Linked DNA regions of Homo sapiens: all the other regions are linked to region 3. The links come from fine-mapping of genetic effects on gene expression. A gene starts in region 3. Each other region holds a variant in brackets. All regions are shown on one strand. Distances are from middle to middle.

Region 1 (6,457 bases), 110 kb before region 3:
ATCAGGGAGGCAGAGGTTGCAGTGAACCGAGATTGTACCACTGCACTCCAGCCTGGGTGACACAGTGAGACTCTGTCTCCAAAAAAAGAAAGAAAGAAATCCCTGACCTAATCTATCACCACAAAGCTCAGAGTCCAATAATAATATGTTCAAAACATCTCCAACTTTATTAACTGTAATTCTAGATCACAGATCGGAACCCACAGGCCAAATCCAGCTGGCAGTCTGTGTTTCTAAATAAAGTTTTAGTAGAACATAGCCACAACCGTTTGTTTACTTTTTGTCTACAGCTACTTTCAGACTACAAAGGCAGAGTTGAATAGTTGCAACAGAGACGTATGGCATGTAAAACCTAAAATATTTACTATCGGGCCTTTTAAAGACAGTTTGCCAAGCCCATGCTAGAGTTCAGCAGAACTTTTAGTTGGTGAACTGATAAAAGTTAAAACAGGAAAGAGATATATGTGTGTATATGTGTCTGTATATATATATTATGTATATATTTTTTAATTATTTTTAAAAAATTAGTAAGCTGTAAAAGTGGTTTACTCCAGGGATTAGGAAAGTGACGGGTGAATGGGGCAGAAAGAAAACTGTTTGCTTTTTATTTAAAACCCTCTTGTTTATTAGGATTTTTGTCATGTGAAACTATTATTTTACATTATTTAAAACAGCACAGCATGGCAGAGGGAGGCAGAGAAAAACAAGTTAAAATAGAAGATGAGGAGTGCAGGTGTTATCAAAACTTGGTCCAAGCTGACCAACCAACAAGCACTCAGGATCTAGACAATGGATCAAGCTAGAAGGCCTGGCAACCTAGCAGAAACAATCAATGTTCAAACATTACTCAAGGCAGGGCTCCTTATGTCCCTGACCTTAGAGGAAGAAAGCAGGCACACCTTGCTATAAAGAAATTAATGCAATAGGGGAAGAAAAGTTCCCAGTATTGCTATATTTGTCAGCTGTGTTCATTTGCCATATGACGTAAAGACATTCTACAACCTACAATTTTCACTAAACTACCAAGATCATATTCTGAGAAAAAATGAAGGAATTCTTGAAAGATTATGAGACATTTAATGCATCTGTTTATGTTAAAGTACAGTACTCAAGAAACTAGTTCAGCAGTATGCAAACCTTACAGTGCATAATACAAAAGCTATCAGGCTCCCTCAAGTAGTTTCTTTCAAATGAAATACAATAATAAAGCAGTTTTGACTTTTAAAATTAACTTTCCTTGAAACAAATTGAGACAAATTTCAAGTGAAAAAGAAATTAAGTACTTCATTCATAGATGCACTTTAGCATAAACACATTCTGATTCTTATTCTCAATAAATCCCAACTATATGACTCTCTGTCAATCAACTCAGGAAATATCAAACAATGTAAAAATGTTCTCTCAGTTATAAAAGTGAACAAAACTGGGATTACTGTATCTTTTATTAAAGATGCTGAAACATGGCACATCTTAAGGAAGACAGGTGCAGAGGAAGTGCCACTTCTGTTTCATTTTTCAACCAACTGGGTGCATCATTATATGATAATCATTCCTCAGTCTATGTGGGGGATTATTCTGAGACCCTCCATAGACATCAAAATCCACGGATACTCAAGTTCTTTATATAAAATGGCACAGTACTTGCATATAACCTATCCGCATCCTCCTTATACTTTAAATCATCTTGATTACTTATAATGTCTAATACAATGCAAATGTATGTAAACAGTTATATTGTATTATTTTTTATTTTTATTATTTTTATGATTGCATTGTGATTTTTGTGTTGTATTGTTATTTTTGTTGCTGTTTTTTCTTTCCAAATATTTTCCATTTTCAGCTGGTTGAATCCAGAGACACAGAACACATGGATACAGAGAGCCGATTATACTTGGCATTTCATGTATTAAACTACCTAGTCATATAATCTGAGACTTACAAGATATAGAGTCAGTATTTCTTTATGCAGAAGCAAATATGTAAATTGTTTTTCCTATTTTCAGAATCATAAGAGTCAGTCCTAAGTTTTTCCATCTCAGCTATTCCAAGTAACTCTCCTTAGAGAGTTTGCACTCTACCAAAAACAAAAACCTTATTTCCAATAAAGGAGTGATGTGACTAGGAAAGAAAAGAGGAACACATAATCTGCCAAGAAAAAATTAACAAGTAGACAAGTAGGTATACTGTGCATATAAACTTGCTTAAAATATTTTTTAAAAATCACATCAGAATTCAGAAATATTCTATATCATGGGGTGATTCTCTCAAAAATCATTTCTAAAAGGAAAACATTTATGATTCTCTAGTTATCAACAAGAATTAGAATAGATATAAATGTTTTTAAAATTGAGAATATATAAATTCAGTTGGAAGTTAATTACTGCTCCTAAGATTACTAGAATGTAAAATGCTTATTCACTCTAATTCACTCATGTCCAAGCAAAGATTAAATCTTGCCTTCGGCTAAGTTCCACAAGCCCAAGTCAATTAAATACATTTTAAAAGTGTGGATGAATCCTGTATGAGTAGGCCCAACTAGAGAGCTCAAGAACAGGTGCAACACTGTACTGGGAAGACCAGAGGAAACAGAGCAAAAGAAAGAAAAACGCACAGAAAAAAAAACAAAAAAAAAGAGGTGTATCTAATTTATAAAGACAAAAATAAAAGAATGTTAGAATAACAATGTCTTTTATCTTTGTGGACTCAACGTGACCCACATGTCAACTAACTCTATCCTTATATCCCACATTATATCATCTACAAAAGAAGTGAACAAACTTATTATGTTCTCCCATATAAACAAAAGAGTGAAACAACAGGTGAAGTGAAAGAGGGAATGGTGTTAGGCAGGTGAATGGTGGCTGGCAAAGGATACTGTGCTGGTATGGGGTGGAGAAGAAATGCTAGCGGAGGGGCTATCATCACCACCAGACAGCTCCAACTGATAGCCCTGCTCTCTGAGTCACCCTGACACTGTCACTAAATCACCAAGTTAAAAACACAACTTTATCTAAGTTTTCCTAAGATACCTAAAGTAAAACCCCATTACAAAGAATTTCTTGGGATATCTGAATGTATGTGTGATGTACTTTTACCTATTTGCAGAGAATAAGACCAATTCTTCTTATTATCACATGCATGACTCACATATCTAAACATAGCATGCTTCTTATACACTGTATTACCTAAAATAACTATTAATTTAAATCTTTTCCATTTCAACCTTTTAACCTCATTCGATAACTGTAGCCACACCTCCTCCACATATCAGTATATCCATTAATTTAAAAAGTGCTGAGAAGCCACTTGATATCAATTTTTAAAAGCCCAAATAAGAATTTCTTTCAAAGACATTTTTTACAGTTAACACTCATCATGTAAGACATTTACTTTAGCATAGCTAAAATAGATTTTTAATTATATAAAAGTTTCAACACATCACCTGCTCCCTCAATTTCCTGCCACCAAATTCCACGCTCATTCTTTCCTATTATAACAGACAGTGACCTTTTCAAAGTCAATCTCTGCTATAATCCCTGCAAAGCCTTAGTATATTATTATGCTATTTTATTTTCAGCTTCTCACTCTCTCCTACCAATTTTCCAATATTGAGGTTTCCTCTTCTTAATTCTGCATCTGTCCTCATCACAAAATTTCCTCACCTTACACTTGATAGTTCAACCAACTCCCACCAAATCTGTCCCCAAAAGGTCAACTATGACTTCTTTGTTGCTATAAATCCAATAGATACATATTTTCAGTCTTCATTTTGCTTGGTAACTCCGCAACAAAGATTTCATTTCTGGTGTAGACAGTTTCCTATTCACAACTCTCATATCCTGGCCTACCTCAAGTCTTCCTGCTCCTCGTTCAGGTCCTCCTTAGTCTTGATCCCGGAAGGAGAGTTAGATCCGAATGCTTCCACTGTATGCACAACTTCCTTCTCTCTACAGCCTAATTTCTTTTTTTTTTTTTTTTTTTTT[TG/G]AGACGGAGTCTCGCTCTGTGGCCCAGGTGGGAGTGCAGTGGCGCAATCTCGGCTCACTGCAAGCTCTGCCTCCCAGGTTCACGCCATTCTCCTGCCTCAGCCTCCCGAGTAGCTGGGACTACAGGCGCCCGCCACCAGGCCCGGCTAATTTTTTTGTATTTTTAGTAGAGACGGGGTTTCACCGTGTTAGCCAGGATGGTCTCGATCTCCTGACCTCGTGATCCGCCCGCCTCGGCCTCCCAATGTGCTGGGATTACAAGCGTGAGCCACCGCGCCCGGCCTACAGCCTAATTTTATGGGTGCCTACTTTAATATAAGTCCTTCTTGATAGATTATGTTCTTTATGAAACCAAGGATTATACTGATTACACTGTATGTGGTTTATCACCATACTGACAATTTCAAAGCAAAGTACCTGGCATAAACACTCTGTAAACTGCCTGAATTATTTTCACCCAATAAGCTGTTACTATATAACAGATTTATCACTACAAAATGAACTAAATGGATGCTTTGGTTCAAATGGATTTGCTTTTTCAGGACCCAGAATGGCTTGTTGGAAATCTCTAAATACATTCAACACACTAAAACTAATTCTCTATTTATTTAACCTAATAAGTGTAAATGACATCGTCAAGTTTCTACTAATGACAGTTAATCACTCTCAAAATGGACAAAATGAAAGTATCACTGGTACTACTCAATTTATATCCTAACCAAATAAAAAATGTGTTAACTTCAAGCTGGGCGCGGTGGAGTTAGAGACCAGCCTGGCTGACATGGCAAAACCCCATCTCTACTAAAAATACAAAAATTAGCCGCGCATGGTGGCGTGCACCTGTAATCCCAGCTATTCTGGAGAATGAGGCAGGAGAATCGCTTGAACCCAGGAGGCAGAGGTTGCAGTGAGCCAAGATCACGCCACTGCACTCCAGCCTGGGCGACAGAGTGAGACTCCATCTTTAAAATAAAAAACAAACAAACAAACAAACAAACAAAAAAACATGTAACTTCAATCTGCACATTTTAAAGAAAAAAAAAAACCATAGAGACTTAAACAGCATTTCTGGGAGGAAAATATCTAGCCCTTAGCCTATAACCAGCAAAGACTTGTAATATGAGATAATTTTTTAAAAATTAATTCAAACTTATATTAATGTTTTGCTCTATTATAATTCTTTTAGTTTTCAGGTACTAGCAATCAACATCTACAACAACAGTGAGTCATGCTCACTGAATGTCAGAATTTCCATATAGGAGAGACAAAGGGGATGCAATCTGGGATGGGTATGAATTTAATTCGAAACTAGATTTGTTTGGCAAGCACACTATTTTACTTAGATTGTACATTTATTTGTGATGGCTCTAGAGGAATGTTGGAAATTACACCTAGGGATTAGAGCTTCCCCAAGACTGTCACAAGCAATGCAAATCCTTCATTTTAAGCAAACCAAAATGCTATTAATAAAGTTAGAGATAATAGCAAAATATGCAGTGGCTATTTTTCTGTTGTATATTTAATAATAAACAAAAGACATAACACATTGAATACATAATCACTTAACTATTACAAACATTATTATTATATAAATTGAAACCATACTTAAATTTTCCAAAAGACTTTTTATCATGATGAGCCAAACACTTGAACCATCTGGATCTCCAAAACAAGCTGCAATAATATCCTCAATATTTATAAGCTGGGCAAAGTTAAGGAAGAATTCCCAAGAGATGCATTGGAGATATGAACAGATAATTTATTCTTGTCTACAACTCTATAAAAATAGAATCAGTTGGATTGGAAAAAATATGAAAAATGAGTTTCAATGAGGTGACAAGAAAAAGCAGGAATGAAAAGTATCTGATCTTTCACACCTTAAAGCCTATTATTTATAATTTTATTGTACTGCCCATATATAAATATGAATGTTAAACTAGAACACAACACTTTATACTAATTTTCAATGTTTATTAACATTTTTACACAGCTGCTACATAAGAAGCTGACAACAGAATCTGCTTTAAAACATTTACATGACCTTACCTTATACAACTGTAATGTTTAAAAGTGCTGGCAGCTTTTTGACATTCAAGGCACAACTGAATAGCTCCTGGATAATCTTCCTCCTTAAGGTAACAACAACAGGAGTCATTGGAATAGAAACATTTTTTCTTAAAGCCCCTGATAAAAAAAAATCTCTGTTCATATTCTAACCAAAAGTTACAGAATCAAAAAACTTTAATTCCTCTTAGAATATCAATGATAGATAAGTGACAAAATATAAGAGGCAACTAGTTCCAGGCCTAAAATATATACATAGAAGAAATATTTAAAATATTCTATTCCTTCAAAGTAACAGCCCCCTGAGACCATTTCCATGACTTATGGATAAATCCTACATTAAATCATTAGCTGCTTCACAGGAAAGGTTTTCTTTAACTGTTAACATATCTTCTTTCAGTACTGCCTAC
Region 2 (6,457 bases), 170 kb before region 3:
TTCAATTAGGAAAATAACAGAAAGGAACCAATGGTTCTCAAAGTGTGGTCCCTAGACAAGCTGCATCAACATTACCTGGAAACTTGTTAAAGGTGCCCGTTTTCAGGTTATACCCTAGACCTACTGAATCAGATACTCTGGGAGTGGGGGACAGCAATCGGTGTTTTGTTTGTTTGTTTATTTGAGACAGAGTCTTGCCCTGTCACCCAGGCTGGAATGCAGTGGTGCGATCTCAGCTTGCTGCAACCTTGGCTTGCTGCAACCTCTGCCTCCTGGGTTCTCATGCCTCAGCCTCCCAAGTAGCTGGGATTACAGGAGTGCCCCACCACATCTGGCTAACTTTTGTATTTTTAGTAGAGACAAGGTTTTGCTATGTTGGCCAGGCTGCTCTTGAACTCCTGACCTTAAGTGATCCATCTGTCTTGGCCTCCCAAAGTGCTGGGATTACAGGTATGAGCCACCAAACCTGGCCAGCAATCTGTGTTTTAACAAGCCCTCTAGGTGATACTGACGCATGCCAAAATTTAAAAATCAAAGGCTAGATCACCATAAAAGATGAATAAAGCAATAAAGCACAGTCCTTCTTTCTTCTTGATAGGCCCTCATGCCTTGGTTTTCAAGACCTCTGCTTCACCTCCTAATTTTCCTCCTGCCTTTCTGCTGTTGATTCATGACCTTCTTCACTGACTGATCTTGCTGTTTGCCCTTCCAGTGTATCCATATCCACTGCTGTTTCCTAGGTTTCCACTCAGCTATCTTGTGTTGCATGTTTTTGTGTGTACTAAGTGGGTAGGAAGGATAGTAGAGCTTCTGTCTGGTTTTCTATGAACTCAAATTGTTAAGAGCCTCTGCCAAGATAAACTCATCCACTAACCTTTTGAGTTCATAGAAAATCAGACAGAAGTCCTAGTCCTTCCTAGTCATTTTAAAACAATGACTCAAATTATGTATCCTGATCATGTTTTTTCTCCTGACCTCCACATCCATCTATGTAACTACCTATAGACTATTTCTACTTAAATGTCCCAGAGGTACCTCTATATGTCCAAAGTCTACCCTACCATCAGCTCGGAAAACTTGGTCTTCCTCTCATCTTCCCTTTTTCATTTCTGGCATTATAACTGGTTAATCACACAAACCTAAAATCTGAGTGATCGCTCATCACTGATTCACCAATTCTGTCTGTTGTATTTCTAAAATCTCTCTAATCCATCTTCTTCTCTATATTACAATGGCCACTGCCATCCATATCCAGGCTTATGTCCTCATCATCCCTTGCCTGGGAGACTTCGACAGTCTGCCATCCAGTCTTTGACCTTCTCCAGTTTCCCCTTAGCCAAAGTCAATCCCTTATTTACACTTTTTTTAAAAACAGCAAATCTGCTGGGGTCTCTCCCCTGTTAGAAATCCCTTAAGGAGCTTATGTCCAAGCTGCATAGGACAGTCTTTGAGGCCTTCTCATATCCTGTTCTTGCCCATCTTTCTCGTCACATCTCCTCTGCTTCTGCCTCCAGGCCCCGTCATGTTTCTTACATTCCAGCAAACTAGACAACTGGAGTCTCTGAATACACCATGTCTTGCACATGTTCTTTCTGTCCAAAATGCCTTTACCAACTTCATCTATGAGAACCTATTCATCTTTCAAACTCAATTAGGGTGTCAGCCCCCATAGTGAGTCAGTCCTTTCACTTCCTACCCAAAAAGGAAAATTAATCATCATTCTTTCTCTTGCCTCTTTTCTGTTTATTTATGCTTATAACAACACACTGTAAATTTTTTTATTTTGTATTTATTTCCCTTGTTGAACTCCTTAAGTACAAAGTACAAAGACTATGGTTTCTTCATGACTGTAACTCCAACAGCTAGCCAGAAACAAAGTAGTGACTCAAAAAAAAAAAAAAAATCTGGTGGACTAAAACTAATGAATGCAATATACATGGCAAAAAAAGAACTGATTTCCTTAATGTTGAAATTAAAACCTATAATTTCCTTATTATATAAAAATGAGCAGTGGATATGAATAAGTAGTTCGCAAGTAAATAGAAATGTCTTTTAAGCATATGAAAAGATGCTTCAATTCACTCATAATTAAATACATTTTTGAATGAGATGCCATGTTTAACCTATCAGACTAGCAAGTACCCAAAGCTGGAGGATACACAGTGTTGCTGAGACTAAGAAAAGAGCTACCCTCAAATACTGCTAATGAATGAGTAATTTAACAGAACTCTTTTAGTAAGCTCGTTAGTAACCTCATTGGTAAATTGAGAATGTCCATCAAAACTGGAAATGTATATACTCTTTGATCCAGCGAGAGGAAGTATTTATAGGAATTTGTTCTATAGCTCTATCTGTATATACACAAAGATATTTCTTCAAGGATACTTGCTGTGGCAGTTTGTAGTATGAAATGACTTAACCTATATGTTGAAAAGTAGAAGATGTATAAATTGTGGCACTTATAATATTACATCTATACAATAGGAAAAAAGAATGAAATCCACACATACTAAGATAGGTAATACATTAAGATATTTTAAGTGTAACCTTAAGATATTTTAAGTAAAAAATCCAGATAAAAAACAGTATAAATAGTGTAATCCAATTTTTGAAACAAAACAACAACAAAAAAAAATAGGAGAGAGGAGATATACGTATTAAATATATTTGTACTAACACTAATGTTTCCAGAAGAAAACAGGAGAAACTGAGTCGTTTTGTCTGAGGAAGGAGACTTGCAGCTCAGGGGCTCTGCTTATACCTTGGGGTATTTTAATTTTTAACCATTTTTATGCATCACCTTTCAATTTAAAATGCTCAATGATAAAGAATATGCCAGCAAACTAAACTGCTGAGAAACTTCAGCAGTCTGTCATCTAGTATTTGACCTTCCCCCAATGAAAAGAATGTCCTAATGAA[G/T]GAGTGGATCTCTTGTCTCCCATGCCTGTGTTCTCTCCACCACATAAGCTGCATCTCAGGCACATTATACCTAAATATCCCTTAGATGCACATATCCTAGTTTCATTTTAAATACTGATGCATGTGCTAGGGTGCTAGGGTATATTTTTTCTAGCTACTAAAGTGGTAATTTTGTTGTTGTCGGCAGTTCTTACAAGCATGGACTTCGGTAATCTAGCTCCTGCTCCTCAGACCTATCACACCTGCTCACAAGCTGCTTCCAGGAGAGAGAACCGTGAATACCAAGGCTATTTCACTGATGAGACACATTTCCTAAAATTTCTCTTTCACTGTCTGCAAGAAACCATCAGGATGACAGAATTTTCTCTTTATATAATACAAGCAACTGTTCTGATCAGTCCTCTCCACTAGTGCAAAGCCTCCCTGAGCCTTTCTAATAAATTTAGTTACCACCTGGGGTAAGGAAGCCCCATTAACACTCTTTTGTTTACGCTCTGCTAATTATCTGCCAAGTAAATACTACTTGAAAAGGACATTTTAAATATGCCTTTAATGTTCTAATATGGTTTCCCAAATACTCAATAATTAGTTCCTTCATCTTCTCAAGCACCAAAAATTAATCTGTCTTATTTACACAACCGTACTTCTCCCTTTGTAGGAAGAAGCATGACCTCTGCCAGTTTATAATCTTCAGGCACTTCTATGCAATAACAACAGCGGATGGAATAGTGCATTTGCTAGTCAGAGGCCTCTGAGACAGTGGCTTCCTTAAAGTTCTGTTTTGTATATATCTAAAAACTGAAGATAAAAACATCCCAGGGAGAGAGAAAATGATAGGCATAAAAGTCTACTGGGGATCCCAACTGGGGTGATAATGGCAGCACCTAATCCCAGTCCTAAATGAGAAGATATAAAAGTTAAATTGTCATACTCGGCATTGTTTCCTAATTGCAAGTCCAGTAAAAGATATGGTAGTGGAGAAAGCTGAAATTGCAATAGTCAAATTCTCTTCACAGAGTAAGGCTTTATTCAGGACTGTGCCATACTTTACTTTACTTTAAAGGGTCTTGAATGTGGCTTTTCTCAGTTCCTACAAACCCACTGTTCAAAAGCAAGGCCCACTATGTTGATCAGTAATCCTCATACAAAAATTTGTTGTTACTAACATCTGAATTCAGCACCAGGAACATATTTCTACCATTATTATAAAGGCCTGTATCTTTTTCTCAGATAACGAGGATAGTGGTATATATTGTTTCTTCAATTCCCTTATGCCTACCAAGAAGTTAAGCATTGTATTTGATGTCTGCATTAAATATGATATGATAAAGCATGATGTGCCCACTCTTCAACTTTGTCTTAGCCTTGTATTTTATTTTATTTGATTATAATGAAAATATGCCTTCAGCGTAAACAGCAACATGACTACCTCCAGCCCCTTTTGAACTAGGTAAGGTAAAAAATATAAACAACTGCTTAGATGTGTTTGATTATATTATTTTTCCCAATTCCCTGTAAGAGCAATATACAGCCCTGCCCACTTCCCTTGACTTGCAGTGCTTCCTGCGGCAGAAGCATACTTCTCCCCTCCCTTTGCCAAGCCTGACTTGCTTTGGCCATGACATGTCAGAGGAAGTCAAGGGTGACACATGGAAGCAGAAGCTTCAGGAGTCATAACATAGTTTGCTTTTGCTCTTCTCCCCATGTTCCAGATTGGTTGGTACTATTCTTTCAACCTACATCTTAGAATGAAGAGACACACGGAGCAGAGCTGCATATAAACAGGAGACAATGCGTATCACGAGTGAAAAATAAAACTTTGTGGTTGAACGTCTTGATGCACCAACAGTTGCTTGTTACTTCAACATAATCTAGCAAAAGCTGACTACATCTCAAGGAATGTGTTCGGACATTGAAAACTGCTGAGTCTAGAAGGCTAAGGAGGATGACAATGATTCTGAAAGGTCTGAATTTCTATCAGTGAGGACAAGATAAAGGAACTGAGCCCATGGAGCCTGAAAAATGGATTGTGGGGTGGTCGGTATGAGAAAAGGAAGCACGATAACTACCACCACATATCTGAAAAGTGATCACATGGAAGAATAGAAGAATTAGAAGAAATGGAAGATAGAGGAAATAGAAGAATAGAAGAAATAGAAGATAGAAGAAATAGAAGAATAGAAGAAATAGAAGAAAAAAATGCACGAACTTATTCTTCTTGCTTCTAAGGGCATAACTCTTAGACCAAAAGGACAAACCAAAGGCTAGAATCACAGAGAGACAGGTTTTGGTTTACCTTAGGGAAGATACTTCTACTAATGAGATCAGTCTAATGATAGAATGAGTAGTCTTGCAAACCACTGTGTTTCCAATGACTGGGAGTCATGAAACAGAAGCTAGACAGCTACCATGTATGAGAGACATTACAGAAAGACAACCGACTTCATGGCAACTTACACCAATGACCACTCAGCACTCTCCCAATTCTGATTCTACAAATTCTCGAGAGTTATTTCTGACACTATGTTCAGTCAGTTCTCTTGGAAGAAGAAGAAAAGCTTAGCTCCCTGGCAATAATTAGCCACAGAATAGCTTTTTAGAATCTATCCTTTTTTCTGAGCATCATGAAAAGGTATACCTTTCTGTTCTTCTCAATTCAGTAATATTTTTTGCTCTTTCTAGAGAAACCGTGACTCCTAAAAAGCATTCTGTACATTTTATCCTATTCATTAATTAAATTTAAGAATTATCTTAAAGAACACAGACTATTTCAACAGAGCTAAGGTTAATCAAACTAGGCAATAGGTAAATACCATCTCCATAGATAGAATATAGAGATTTTTATGGAAAACCACTAAAATTCCTGCTTGGAACAATGAAGTTTAATAGGAGAAGACATCTCTATAACTTATTTGTCAAATACATAGACTTATTTGTGAGATACAAAGGCTAAAAGCATACAAGATGTTGAAATACTGATTTTAAAAAAATCCACATCATCCTAAAACCTGAATATTTAAAATATCATTTCTTCATATTGTTTGCCTTCTACAAAATCATCAATAAAGGTCTTATCTGTTACAAAAACAACATTTCCTATAATCTGAACATTTAGCTTGTAAATCCCTTGTGTCTGAAAATGCCAGAAAGTCACTATTCACTCTGCCTGACAGAAGATGGTAAAGACCTATGAAACAACTAAGTACAAAAATATTGTATAAATGTGAAACTGGTACTAACTTATCTTACACATACCTCTAACCTACCTAGAGAATTTTTCATCGCATTTCAATTAACTGAAATATTTTAGAAAAATTGTAAGATACAAAGACTTAATAAACAGGTAACTGAAAAAGAAAAACTGGCATTACTATTAGTATTATAGTATTTGGAACATTTAAAATGAGAAGCATTGACATATGATAACCTTAAATCCCTCATTGCATAGAGCACTGGAGTATACAAGACAATAAAAACCACAAGTAAAAGTCATTCGGTAACAAACTAATTTAACTGTTATAATTTTTTTTAAAGGTGT
Region 3 (6,457 bases):
AATGGGTCAAAACAGAATAAGCAACCCAGAAGGAAGTTAATGTTCTTACCTGCCACGTCAAGGGTTACCCAAGGCTTCTCCAGAGATAATAACTAGTTGTCTGATGGGAGCTGTGCTGGAAAGTCTCAGACCCCGTCACTCTTGGGTTTGCCTGGCTATTTCAGCCATCATTGCTTCAGGTGCCAATGGCTCCCTTCAGAGCACTGGGCAATCCCTCTTCCAAAGGCCAGTTTTCTTACAGTGTGCACACTGATTAATGCCCAAGGCAAGGTGACTCTGACTTCCCACCTTTCAGCTTCCCTTGTTCAGGCCAAGAACCAGGAGGGCAACCCCATGTGGGAGGTAAGCTTAAGTCTGCAGCCAAGAGCTGCACCTTGTGGGAGGTCCTTCTTACTCCTTCTGCTTCCTCTGCTTTGTCCCTGTTATTGAAAACTAAAAATACCATATCCAAAAGCTGTTCCATATGGGAGTTTGGGGACCCATAGCTGCTTTTTCTAGTTTCCTATGGATATCAAGGGCAGACTGGGTTATAAAATGTACTCTCAAAAGGGTTTGTCCTTCCCTTGAAGCAGGATCAGTGTTAGTATATTTCCTAATTGCCTCAACTAAATGCCCTTGAAACAAAGCTGGATTCTCATCTTTGTCCTGAGAAACTTCCTTAATTTTTCATAGTTAACAGGCTTTTTCATACATTTCTTCATCCCTTCCAACAAACAAGTGACCATATGATCGCTCCTCCCCAAGTTGTCACTGCCCCTTTGATAGTTCCACTCTGGATCTTGATCTGGAACTGCTCTACCTCCTGCCTGATATGTATTATGGTTTGGGTTGTTAGCCAATGCCTCATCTGCATGAGCCCTAGCTGTCCCCAAAATGCATTGTTTCTCTTCCACTGTACAACACAGAGACAACAAAACATGGAGATCCTGCCAAGTTAACTATAGGTCAGAATTAATTTCTCAAATTAATCTATGAATCTTCCTGGGTCTTCAGAGAAATCACCAAACTTCTCTTTACATAGAGTCAAATCAGACAAAAAAAAAAAAAGGGAACATGTACTCTCACAGTGCCTTCTTCCCCATTTGCCACCTCTCTAAGTGGACAAAGGTTTCCCTTTGGAGGTTGATAGGAGGCTCCACTAGGGGTAGTACTCACCAGGCTAAGTTCCTCAGGGAGTGGTGGGTATAGAGTGGGGCTAGATGGGTAAGGAGGATGGGACAAAGGGTTCTCCAAGGGGATAGAGGGAGAAAGGACAGACACATCTGAACCTTCAGAGCTGACAGAAGGAGGTTCTGCTCCACCCAAAACTGCCTGCTGAACCAAGGTTGCTTGCATTAAAGGATCATCTAGTATGTCTAGCTTTTTTTCCTCTTTTCCTCTCATCAAACATGATTCACATTATCCAAATAACATAAGTGAGCTGAGTCATGAATCTTAGATAAACCACAACATGGACTTTGACAAAAATGTTGAATAAGGCAAGGGAAATGAAGAGGATTTAGATGGGAATGACCAGAGCAAGCAGGTTCTGGGCAATAGAGACAGTGTGGATTGAACAAGCAAAGCCGGTTTGCCTGAATGCAAGAAAGGAAAGAAGTGTTTTTAGTGTGCAAAGTGAAACAAAACATCAGAGTCCCCTGATTTCCATCCTAGTGCTTCTCGATCACACCTAGTCGGCATAGCAGCAACAAAACATAATCTAATTTTATTGCTCATAGCTGTTGAATACCAAATCTCAATCAGCAATTTTAAAGACGGAGCCGTCAATGCTTTTTGTTCCCAATGTTTCAAGAGCAGACACATGGAAATCAGGAGGCACATAGGAAAAGAGTAAGTTAAAATCCCTAAGACCATTTAGATAAAGTCTCCCGAAAATGACAGTGAAACACAGACAGCAACCAAGAAATTGATTTATGCAGCAAGGAGGACAAGGCAGATTAATACAAAGTGCATAGCCTGCAGTGCCAAACCCTTTTTTAGCAGAGAGGGACTTTACTGAGAGGGCCCTCTAACCCCCTAAATCTTAGAAGGAACTCTAAACCTTTTAAGTTGGTCCTCTAATCCGAGGTCAGTCAAGCATCTTTGCCTTTTATTAACAGGGGTCTCTAATTCACCCTGTCTTCGGAGAGACTCTAATTCCCCTAAGTTGGGCCTCTAACCCAATCCCATTCTTTACCCGGGTACCCCACCACTTACCCAAAGTCATCCAATCAGTGCTATAGTCCATTTCCTTTGGGTTGGTGGGGAGGTTCTTCAGTATCGGTCCCTCATGGTTGCCAGAAATGTTACAGGACCAGGGTTCCAATCCAGACCCCTAGAGAGGGTTCTTGGAGCTCATGCAAGAAAGAATTCAGGGCGAGTCCACAGTGCAAAGTAAAAGCAAGTTTATTAAGAAAGTACAGTGGTAAAAGGACAGCTACTCCACAGACAGAGTAGGACGTTCCCGAAAGTAAGAGGAGGAACACATCCACCCTAGGTACAATGCTTGTATATATGGAGAGATGTGTTTTGCTACAAGGGTTTCTGATAAAGAATTAATTTTCTTAATTAGTGTATTTTGCAAGAATCAATATTATTTTCTTTAAAGCAAAATTAAGAATGCCTCTGTTCTCCAGATATTGGGATATCTGGACACTCCCAAGTCACGGTCTGCTTAGTAAATATTATTAATTTGCTCCCTTAATCATAAACATCTAGAGGCTAGGAATGCCTACCTTTCTGAGAAGGCAGCCCAGCAAGTCTCAGCCTCATTTTCGTAGCCCTCATTCAAAATGGAGTCACTCTGGTTCGAATGTCTCTGACATTATCAGGGTTGGTTTCTTCTGATGTCTCTCTCCTTGGCTTGTAGATGGCCATCTTTTCTTTGTGTCTTCACATGGTCTTCCCTCTGTATGTGTCTGTGTCCCAATCTCGTCTTCTTACAAGGACACAGTCAGATTCAATTACAGACACTCTAATGACCTCATTTTAACTTAATTATCTCCTGAAAGACCTTATCTCCAAATACAGTTACATTTGGAGGGAGTGAGGATTAGGACTTTAACATATGAATGTTTGGGGGACACAATTCAACCAGTAACAGGAACTTAGATTGCACTGACATATTAATTTTCTCCCTGGTATTTCCATTCTCTTTGTCCTGTAGGTAGTTTTTTGGGTCACTGGGTTTTTTTGTTTGTTTGTTTGTTGTTTCCTTATTCCTTAACTCTTATAACTTAAAAATCTGCCTGGTAAACAGTTTCTAAGCAGTGATTCAAATTTATTGATATTTTTGGTAATGTTATTGATTAAAAAACATTTCAGATCCTTCTAAACTCAAGAAAAAAGAATGTTCTAAAGCAAAACTGAAACTGTCTATACTTCAACTTCCTCCTGCTTCTCAACTGGCACTCTGACACACCCTCAGAAAGTCAGAGTACTGGGAGAACAGAAGACTTCACAATTTAATGCCTCAGTTTTTAAAAAAGGATCCTTACACTTCATGTCTCCTAGCCATCAGAAGAGGAATGAGACAGCAAAAGTTCAAATGGCCTGTTTCAAGTTTCTGATATAAAACGATGACATTTTCAGGAAAATCCTGGTAAGTAAACTGAATCATTAAACCTTTATTTGTTATGCTTTTGAGGCGACAGCTATTTTTTAAAACTTCAGCTGTACTTTTTATATAAATATATGTTTGTACATAAACGATTACTTATAAAAATACTAGAGTAATTAGAAAAATCAATGGATTAAATACATGTCAGTATATTTAACTGATAATAACTTTGTAAGTGCTCTTCTAAAAAGAAACATACCATTAAGTGTAATTAGGATAGTGGGAGGGTTTCTGATTGTGGCAGGCAGGCTTTGGAAAAGAGGATAGAGAAACGATGCAAACAGGGTCAGGAATTTAAGCACTGAAGATTCTAAAGGAACGTGTGATCTTGTGTAATTACACAAAATTCTGTCTTCATAACGTAAGATGTTATTAAAACTTTTACATTTTATCAAAGTTAATACTCTGCAGAGGCTAAATATTATTCTATTAAAGTATTTCATTCACATACATCTTATCCAGCAATCTGGTTGAAAACTAAGAAAAAAAATGCAAAGTGTTCTTCAGGAAAACGAAACTAACTTGCTTGTGTGGCTTCTGTCTGCCAGACTATGCAAGGAGGGTGTGGGTAGCTCTCCTGGGCTACAGCCAGATTCTGAAGTGTGTTTCCCCTACATCAGTTCTAAGAATCCTGCAGAGCAGAACACCTCCCTAGGGCATGGATATCAGCGGTGTTGCTGAGGGTCTCTCAAAGATGGGGTGGGCTTGTCCCTGAGAGTTTGCTGACTTGGAAATTCTTGCTGAGCATCAAAGAGAGAAAACTGAAGTGTTGAGGATGCCAACCTGCAACTCCTTTGTCAATAACCAACGTTGCTAAAGATAATATTTGTCTTCACAATTGTTTCAAAACAGGACACTGAGGGCCCCTAGAAAGCCAAGACTTAAGTCAAGGCAATCACAAAATTTGTCCACACTAATCATGGTCATTTTGATTGTTACTTAGTTCCAACAGCATACATCCAGATGCTCTTAAAATTGTACTGGCTAAAACGAAAGAAAAAATCTGGAGTCTGTTTTTTCCATCTTTAGCATTTCCAGAGAGAGACTGGCTGGTTAAATTTCTGAAAGAGGACACCAGCTAAAAGAAGGTATTGCATCTCACCCGAGCAGACTGTGTCTGTGGAAAGTGTAAGCCCCTTGCCAGAAGAGCAGCTTCCCAGCAAAGGCAGAGGGTGAAAACAGCAAAGGTCTTAAGACACTGGGGACCTAGAGTCAAAAGGGACCTCCTCCAGGGAAAACGCTGTGTGAGAAATGGCCTCATTCGGTGACTGTGAGTGACACAGCAGAAAGTTGGTAAGGTGTAGTCTGTAACTAGGGTATCTACAAAAACTGCAGGAGAAAATATATTCATTTGTTTTGCTTTCCTTTTGAAAAAAAAACTTCCTTTTCATTATTTGTGACCAGATGATAGAAGCTGGAGTTCATTCTGGCCTAACGGGTAGCACAGTAAAGAGATTTCCCCAGATTTCTACCTGGAGTTCCAGCCAAGCGAAATAATTTCCCTAGGAAAATGAGGAAGTCCTTTGACCCACAGACACTGGTAGCTCAAGGCCTTTCAAATATTCATTACTTTTAACTACTCTAAGAAAATGTGTTACTCATTTAACAGATTTTTGTTAAGAAGCTATTATGTGCTAGGCAATGCCAGATAATGAACAAAATGTAAAGAAATTTGTCCTTATGGAGTGCATAGAATAATGGGTTGGACAGAAAATAAATAGGTTAAAATATATAAAATATTTGCTGCTTGTAAGTCCTAAGTAGATAAAAAATGAAGCCAGAAGAGGGATAGGAAATGTTGGGAGGTGGGATAAAGTTTTCAGTAGGCTGGCCAAACAGTGCCTTGCTGAGAAGGTGACATTTGACAAAAGATCTCAACAAAGTGAAAGAGTGAGCCCTGCTGGTATCCAGGGACATTCCAGGAAGGGAAAACAAGTGTAGTGGCTGGAAACAGGGGCAGGTGCTTCCTTCAGGAAGCAACGAGGAGGTCAGGGGACTGGGCCAGATTTAGAGGGAAAAATAAAAGACCTAATATCAGAGGATTAGCAGGGTACCAGATTGTGTGAGGCCTTGTCAGATGGAAAGCCACAGACAGGGTTGGACACAACATTGATATGATGTTTACATTTTAACAGGGTCATTCCGGCTGCTTTTTTGAGAAGTCCCTGAAGAGATCAATAACAGCAAGAGGGAACCTGGCAAGGAAGCTATTCCTATAATCCAGGAAAGAGATGAGGAAGGCTTGGACCAGGTGGTAGTGGTGTCAGGTAGTCAAATGCTGGGTATATTTTGAAGATACACCCCATAGGATTTGCTCCACATTGAATGTGGAATGCTGGAAGAGAGATAAAGTGTACCTGTCACATACTTTTTGAGTTTTATTTATTTTCTTAGAAGTAAGTACACAAAGAGATGCTACCTAGGAGAAGGGTATTCTTTTCACTATTCTTTCAAATTTTCTGTATGTTCAAACATTTTCATAGTAGAAAGTTGGGGGGAAAATCTGTTTCATAAACATTTCCTCAGCAGCAGTCCAGTCTATTGCATTTTAATTGGTTGTGATATCATTGTTTTATGCAATACGTTCTCAACAAGTATATCCTCCGGCAAACTGAACAAGGACCAAGTCTGTTCTGCCTACAGCTCTGCTTCCTCATAGCTGCTTTCCAGAACGTGACTCTTGCAAATTATCAAGAAAGGGGAACTAATCTAAGGGATCCAGATCAAACAGCCTCATGAAGACTTATTTTATGTTTCTAATATAAAGATAGAAGTTTTCAGAAAAGCCCTGGTAAGTTTCTAATCATTAAAGTCTTGTTTAATCAACTCTCTTTAAAAGCTATCTTTAAAAACTAATTA

Direction of the effects. Alleles are on the strand shown, and positions count from the first base shown. SD is a standard deviation of normalised expression in the study named.
For the expression in Th17 cells of the gene that starts at base 3,389 in region 3, allele TG in region 1 goes with a higher level than allele G (large effect, 2.0 SD a copy in Schmiedel 2018).
For the expression in skeletal muscle of the gene that starts at base 3,389 in region 3, G is the high allele of the variant in region 2 and T is the other (moderate effect, 0.68 SD a copy in GTEx).

Evidence for each region. PIP is the estimated chance that this variant, and not a neighbour inherited with it, causes the effect. A credible set is the group of variants that fine-mapping cannot tell apart.
Region 1: its variant is the best candidate, but not a certain one, in a credible set for the expression of SAMD9L in Th17 cells (Schmiedel 2018, PIP 0.56).
Region 2: its variant is the best candidate, but not a certain one, in a credible set for the expression of SAMD9L in skeletal muscle (GTEx, PIP 0.57).

Annotation. Positions count from the first base shown.
Region 1 is chr7:93,259,205-93,265,661 of GRCh38, reverse strand. VPS50 (VPS50 subunit of EARP/GARPII complex) reads right to left here. Exons shown (of 28, transcript NM_017667.4): 9 at 6,030-6,112. Among named protein-coding and RNA genes, the nearest start is that of VPS50, 30 kb to the right of the region's middle. RefSeq lists a silencer at 4,085-4,287 and an enhancer at 4,132-4,633. The variant TG/G (reference allele first, on the strand shown) is at 3,984.
Region 2 is chr7:93,311,283-93,317,739 of GRCh38, reverse strand. The region is part of intron 20 of VPS50 (VPS50 subunit of EARP/GARPII complex); the gene reads right to left. Among named protein-coding and RNA genes, the nearest start is that of VPS50, 82 kb to the right of the region's middle. The variant G/T (reference allele first, on the strand shown) is at 2,920.
Region 3 is chr7:93,145,317-93,151,773 of GRCh38, reverse strand. It overlaps SAMD9L (sterile alpha motif domain containing 9 like), which reads left to right and starts at 3,389. Exons shown (of 5, transcript NM_152703.5): 1 at 3,389-3,580; 2 at 4,628-4,891; 3 at 5,734-6,389. RefSeq lists an enhancer at 4,090-4,189.